Homo sapiens: one gene and its partner. The protein of the gene in region 2 interacts with the protein of the main gene of each other region in a biochemical or structural test. Each region holds a gene or a part of one and is shown on either strand. Other genes may lie near its edges.

Region 1 (3,747 bases), on a different chromosome or scaffold from region 2:
GATGATGTTCTTGGGACTCCTGGAGGCTTCATGGGCTGAGATTGCAAGCCCCCAGCCCTGCCGGGCCGATAGCCTCCTCCCTGTCTGTGTGAGGCTGTCCCTCCCTACCAGGTCCCGCGTAGGGGAGGTCCTGGAAGCAAGGGAGGGGCTGGATCTTGAGCCCCACTGGTGAAGACACTCCCACATATCTTCAGTCCCTGTAGACCTGCCCCAGAGGTACCTGCTAGGCAAGCTGTGGCCTGTGCCTCCCCAGCGCTGTAAATCTCCCCAGATCCCACCCAAACCCAACCTCAGCCATCCTGGCTCCTTGGGCCTGAGCTGCTGCCGCGTGACTTTGGGGGACAAAGGAGGCTCTTCCTGGCAAACCTTCTCCCAGACTGCCTGCCTGGGGCCTGCATCCCCAGTCAGCTCCAAACAAGGCTGTTGCTGCTGCTGCTGCCGCAGCCGCAGCTGTGACGTGTGGAGGCCTTTCCTCGGAGGGCAGGCAGCCGCGTGGGCAACAGATGTCTCAGCTCCCTGCCGCCTGCAGCCGTCAGCCGCCGCCACTGAGCCTGTCAGCGGCCTCACGCCCAGGGTGCCTGGCCAGCCCGCTTAGTGTCCCCACCAGCCCCCTCAGCGGACACACAGCATGACACACACAAGCAGACACAGGCTTGCGTACACACACACACACACACACACACACACACAGCAGGAATCCTATAGGAAAGAGGAGATGAAAGGCTCTGGGATGTGTTGAAGGCCCACCTCACTCGGCCCCAGGGACCTGGCAGTGAGGGCAGATGTGGGAAGCCTCCTAGGACAGCTGGGCCTGCCTGTCACCCTGGCCCCCAGAAACGGGATTCCATGATTCCACGCTCCACCTGGTGCCCACCCCCTCCCAAGAACTGGACAGAAGTCTCTTAAAGCCCAGCCGGCTTGGCCCAGCCCCCATGGCAAGAGGTGGCAGTAGGGTGGGGGAAGGTGCTTCTCTGTGCCTCTGACACAGGCCCCCAAAGACAAGATCAGCCTGTGTGGGAGCAAGGGATGGCCGTCAGATGGTTTCAGGTTATCTCCTCTGCTCCTTCCAGACTGAGAGCCGCCAAGGGCAGGGCCTGGGTTCTCTCCTCTTCTGTCCCTTAGGCTGGGGACCCCCAAGGGCAGGGTCTGAGTCCTCTCTTTTGGCCCTCCAGACACGAGGATGTCGAGGCTGGGCCAGGATCCTGTCTCCCCTAGACAGGCACCCCCTCGAACAGGGCCTGAGTCACCTCCTCCACTCCTCTATCCTCAGACTAGCCACGCTCCAGGGCTGTGCCGGCTCCTTTTCCTTCTCTGTGGGCAAGGCAGGGCCCTGGGAAACTTGAGGAACGGGCCTGAGGCTGTCCTGGCCCCCGGCTTTGTGTCATCTTGTGGGGAGGGGTCTCACAACCTCACAGTTAAGTCTCCCTTTCCCCTGGAAGCCAAAATTCCTCCTGGTCACTTCCCCTTAGGGTGACTGAGGTCGTGAATGAGAGACTGACTCACGCCCAAAGTGGGAAGTGGATGGACCTCTGTCTTCTCAGATTCAGCGAGGACCCCAGACCTCCCTGGGTCACCAAGCTCTGCCGGCAGGGACCCCTGATAGGGGAAGGGGGGCTCTAAATCATTTTGCCCCAGATCTTCAGGCAGGGGGTGAGTCTGAAGAGTTTCTGGGCCTCTGTAGAGCTGTCTAGACCCCTGGCCCATCTCCGCGGGTCCTTCCCGGGTCCACAGTGGCTCCCCCAGATGAGGCCAGCGGGGAGGCGGGTGCGTGAACTCTTGGGAGATTCTTCGCGGGATCGGGCAGACAGGCCCAGCGTGGGAGGAGGGCGGCTGGGGCTGCCTGCCTCTGCCTGGAAGCCGCCTCTACAGCATGCGGGGCGCCCAGGCCAACCCTCCGCCTTCAAGCCTCGGATACACAGGGGATCTGGGTCCCGGGCGGACCGCGAGAACCCGGTCTCAGACATGGGACCGCCCTGCCGCCACGCAGCCGCCAGACTCACCCGTGAGATGGTGAGGGGCGCGCTGAAGTCCCGGCCGCCCACCAGGCGGAAGCCCCAGGGCGAAGGCCCGCGCAGGGTCACGGAATGGGGCATCGCGGGCTGGAGCCGCAGCCGGAGCCTGAGCCGGACTCTGAGGAGGAGCCGCCGCCGCCGCAGCCGCCGCCGCCGCCTGGACGCCGCGCCCGCCCCCGGCCCGCCCGCCCCTGTCCCCACTCGGCCCAGCCCCCGCCCCCGCTCCCTGTGCGCCTGGATTGGCCCCGCGGCCAGCCCGACCCTCCCACTTCGGGGGGCTCTGAGGACCCGCCCTCAGCCCCGGCTGCCGGCAACCCGGCACCCCCACTCAGCTCTCAGAGATCCCCGCGTTCGGACGGCCCCGACGGCCTGGATCCTGCTCGGGCCTTGGATCTGCAGGCCGCGGACCCAAACCCAGCTGTCGACACCGGCCCTTTGAAGTCGCTTTTAGGGGCGGTGCTCCAGCCCGAGGAGGGATGGAGGGCCCACTTGGGGGATGGGGCTGCCCCAGCTCAGATACCTCCTCATGGGCCCGACTGGCACACCTGCGGCCCATCCTGCCGTGTGAGGAGCCCTCTGAACCAAGAACCCTATGAACCAGGGGCTTGCGCAGCACTGGGCCGGGGACGCAGACCCAAAACGACAGCAGGCAGCGCCGAGCGTGGGAGTGGACACAGAAAGGTCCTCAGACTAGTTTGTGGAGGCCAGTAAGGCTTCCTGGAAGAGGTGGTCCCTGACTTGTATCTGGAAGCAAGGTGTCCCTGCTTCCCCAGAACATTCAGGCCTTCTCTTGCTGCTTGCAGGCTCCTCGCAGGCCACCTCCCTGTCTGCACAGCCCCCTCCCCTCGTCCTTTGCCAGGAGATTTGTTTCCCCAGGTCTCCTGAGAAAGTAGCAGCTGGAGCGGCTGGGGTCGTGGCTGTGCAGTGTAAAGGGAAGAAATATATGCAGCGCTTCACTTTGGGCCCTTTTCTCTCCAAGGTCTTCTCTCCATTCCCAACCATTATCCTCCGGGGATGTACTTGAACAGCCAATGCAGATGCCATGGCACCACCAACCTCCCTCTGGTTCTCTCGGCACTTCTATCTGGCTACATCAGGGAGACACCTTTTACTTTTCCAGACTCTGTGGAGGTCTCTCATTTAGCCCAAATCCTTAACCTTATGTGTCCTTTTAGTCAAGCTGTGATAAGGACCCTGCTCTTGGGCTCCTCACAGGTGGTGGGATGAAATGTGTCCACTGGGTCTCTGACAACCCGCAAAGAGGAGAACTGCTTGAGAAGCACAAACCTAGGGCAGTCCAAGGAAGGGAGGGGCCCTTCAGAGTAGAATGTGGGTGCCTCTGTAGGAGGCAAGATGCTGCTATCTGTTCAGCTGGGAGAGAAACAAGTGGTGTGTGGTAGCGGTGTTTATATGGGAGTGTATTTGGGGTGTGTGTGTGGGGGGGGGTGCGGTGTCTGAATCCATTAGAGCACCAGCCATTGGGCTGTTCTCCATCACTTTGTGGTGGAGGAGGTTTCTGCTCAGCCCCTTGCAGACTTGGATCCCAAGTGAAGAAAGGTGGAAGGGCCAGCAGGAGAGCTGGTCACTGCATTGTCTCTCTGAGGTCTGTAGGCCAGAAGCTCCCCAGGACTTAGACCCTACTAAATGGGGTAGAGAGTAAGGGGCAGCCATCACTTATCACTGGCTGTCCTGAGGGTTTGGTGTACAGCATGGCTTGTGGTCAGAGGCCTGTCAG
Region 2 (3,647 bases):
CTACTCCACAGACGGGGGAGTCTTCCATACACTCCTATTTTTCTCAAAATGAAGACAAAGCTGATCTCTCAGCATCTCCTGCAGGCCCTATGTTCATGCTCTTTGAGCCCTCACCTCACCGTGCTCCTTCCTGCTGCAGGGACTGCAAGAGCCTGGGACCTTCTCCCCCTCCCCACTGATTACTTCATCCTGTGGGTCTCAGCTCCATGATTGCAGAGCCTTTGCTCACCTTCCTGACTTGAGTTAAATTGTTGCTATAAATGTTCATGCCACCAGATCTCTCTCCATTATAGCACTTTTCCTAGTGGCAATTTTGCAGTTAATTAATGTAATTATTTGTATTAGTACCTGTCTCCCGGCTACACTGTAAGCTGTGTGAAGGCAGGGTCTCTTTTTTAAAAAAACTTTTTCTAAGTTTTATTTTTTTTTCTTTTAATGTTTTATTTTGATACAATTCAGACCCATAGGAAGGTTGTAAGAATAAATCAAAGAAGTCCCATAAATTCTTCACCCAGATTCCCCAAACATTACCATTTTATTCTTTTTATTTTATCCCTGTGTACATATATATCTATCCTGAACCATTTGAGGATTATTTATCAATGCCTCCTTTCCCCCTACATATATTTCCTAAAAGCGATGATATTCCGTAACTACAATACAAATTTTAGAATCAATAAATTAATAGTGATACAACATTGTTTAATCTATAAACCTCAAGTTTTATATACTTTTTTTTTTTTTTTTGAGAGAGAGTGTCCCTCACTCTGCCACCCAGGCTGGAGTGCAGTGGTGTGATCTCAGTTCACTGCAACCTCCGCCTCCTGGATTCAAGCAATTATCCTGTCTCAGCCTCCCAAGTAGCTGGGATTCCAGGCGTGTGCCACCATGCCCGGCTAATGTTTGTATTTTTTGTGGTGACAGGGTTTCACCATGTTGGATGCTGGTCTCGAACTCCTGACCTCAAGTGATCTGCCTGTCTCAGCCTCCCAAAGTACTGGGATACAGGCCCGAGCCACTGCGCCCGGCCTAGATGTTAGGTTTTGCCAGTTGTCTTAGTGATGTCCTTTTTTATAGCAAAAAAAAAAAAACTCTTATAAATGGGTTGCGTACGGTTGTCATGTCTCGTTAGTTTCCTTTAAACTAAGACAGTTCCCCAATTGTTCTTGGTCCTTCAGGACCTTGACTTTTTTTGTTGTTGTTGTTCCAAGATGGAGTCTCGCTCTGTCGCCCAGGCTGGAGTGCAGTGGCTCAGTCTCAGCTCACTGCAGCATCCGACTCCTGGGTTCAAGCAATTCTCCTGCCTCAGCCTCCTGAGTAGCTGGGATTACAGGCATGTGCCACCACGCCCGGCTAATTTTTTGTATTTTTAGTAGAGACGGGATTTCTCCGTGTTGGTCAGGCTGGTCTCCAACTCCCGACCTCAGGTGATCCGCCCACCTCGGCCTCCCAAAGTGCTGGGATTACAGGCGTGAGCCACCATGCCCAGCCAGACCTTGACGTTTTTGGAAAGTACAAGCCAATTATTTTGTAGAATGCCCCTCACATTGAGTCTGTTTTAACTCACCATTTTGTCCCCAGTGCCAAGCACAGTCCCTGGACCATCAAATGCACTCAGTAAATATTTGTTGAATGAGGAGAGGGAGAGATGGAAGGAGGTGCAAGGGGAAAAGTCAGCAGGTTTTCTGCTTTCTTCCAGCCCCACGCCTTTCCCTGCTGAGTGATGTGGGGTTTTTTTTGTTTTGTTTTTGTTTTGTTTTTTTTGAGATGGAGTCTTGCTCTGTCACCCAGGCTAGAGTGCAGTGGCGCGATCTCGGCTCACTGCAACCTCTGCCTCCTGGGTTCAAGTGATTCTCCTGCCTCAACCTCCCAAGTAACTGAGATTACAGGTGTCCACGACCACGCCCAGCTAATTTTTTGTATTTTTAATAGAGATGAGGTTTTGCCATGTTGGCCAGGCTGGTCTAGAACTCCTGACCTCAAGTGATCCACCTACCTCGGCCTCCCAAAGTGCTGGGATTATAGGCATGAGCCACCCCACCCGGCCTGGATGTTGTTATTTAGTTGCAGTCATACTGTATACAGGTTTGAATCCTGCTATTTTTATAACAAAGCTTTCCCCAAAAAAGAGAGGCTTCCTGAGAAGATAGTGAGCCTGCTGTCCTTGCAGATATACAAGCAGAAGCCAGATGATGGTTTGGCAGGGATACTGGAGAGGCAAATGGAATGTTTGATGAGGGGTGAGACTCATCAGGCTGGGCGTCCCTGCTAATCATGGGTAGACTTCTCTAACTGCAGCACTGACTTCACAGGCCTAGGCCCCCAAGAACAGTGCAACTAGAATTTATCATCCCAACCAGAACAATTTGAGAATAAAAAGGGGTCCTATTAATAATTGCACATGACTGACGGGTCTAAGCCGGGACTGCCCTAGGTAAATCCGGACGTGTGGTCACGTCCGGATTTAAGAGTGACTTCGAGGTTGAGATCAGTGCAGGGTGAGCCAGCATGGAAAACCCTCTAGCACTAGGAATCTTCTACCTGGATAAAGACAAAACTAACCTCTGCATGGCCTGCAGGCCTGATGTTTGTGGCTTTGGTCCCCACACCTCTGTGGTCCCACCTCCAGTAGGATGCCACTCCCAGCTTTGTGCCTGCCACACCGGCCTTTTGTCAGCTCTCACCTCACTATGGTACCTGTCTGCCACAAGGACTGGCAGAGTCTGGAACGTCACTCACATACCCTGGCTGGATGGAGGAGCAGGGACAGAGTTTATGATAGATGGACAGGGAGATGAACAAGCCAGCTGTGCTTCCCACTGACCAATTTCTAATAGAATTTAAGAGCCAGGGTGTGTAAGCAAAGAAGGGCAGGAGGCGGGAGTCACCCTAGACCTTATCTTCTTTCCTCTAGTGCTCACACTTCCACCTCTTCTTCCTGCACCAACGCCCACATCCCTGTTCCAGCCCTAGTTCTGAGATGATGACTAAGTCACTGACCTTTGGCAAAGGCAGGGAAGCAGGTGGCATTGGGGACCCAGGCAGAAGAGGATGGGCATTGGATGGACAGTAGATGCAGACAGGGACTTGGATGCAGAGAAACCAGGCAGGAAACCAGCATCTAGGGATCCCAGTAACAAGGTCACTACAGGGCCATTTATCAGGAAGTCTAGATTTGTAATATCAAGTGACCAGACACTCGGTCAAGGGGTCAGGCTCTGGGATCCATACAGTCTGGTTCTTTAACTTATTTTCTGCCTAGAAGAAAATACAAACCTTGCCTTCCTGGATTACAAATTATTATAGGATGAAAATGTGAAGATAATGGAGCTATTTTCTGGGAAGCATCCCAGTCATGTGAACTTTAAGAACACTGTCCAGTGCAGTCGTGTTTTTATTACTCTAGGCATCAGCAGCTTTAATGGAAAAGCCAGTTAGTAAAGGAATGTTCCGGTTCCTAGAATGCAAGATACTAGTACTGCTGAATGTTGGAAAGATTTTCTGGTTAACTGTGTTATTAGATTTTACTGCTTAAAAATGTACTTTCAGCCTGGTGCGGTGGCTCATGCCTGTAATCCTAGCACTTTGGGAGGCAGAGGCGGGTGGATCACCTGAGGTCAGGAGTTCGAGACCAGACTGGCCAACGT

The links. The genes of interacting proteins can lie anywhere in the genome.
Region 1: the proteins of PTPN3 (region 2) and PDLIM4 interact in a test that uses a peptide from one of them, tested with the Homo sapiens proteins (one large-scale study listed by IntAct).

Annotation. Positions count from the first base shown.
Region 1 is NC_000005.10:132,256,081-132,259,827, reverse strand, and holds the start of PDLIM4 (PDZ and LIM domain protein 4), read right to left. Parts: upstream 2,133-3,747; 5' UTR 2,094-2,132; coding exon 2,001-2,093; intron 1-2,000.
Region 2 is NC_000009.12:109,488,300-109,491,946, reverse strand, and holds part of PTPN3 (tyrosine-protein phosphatase non-receptor type 3), read left to right. Parts: intron 1-3,647.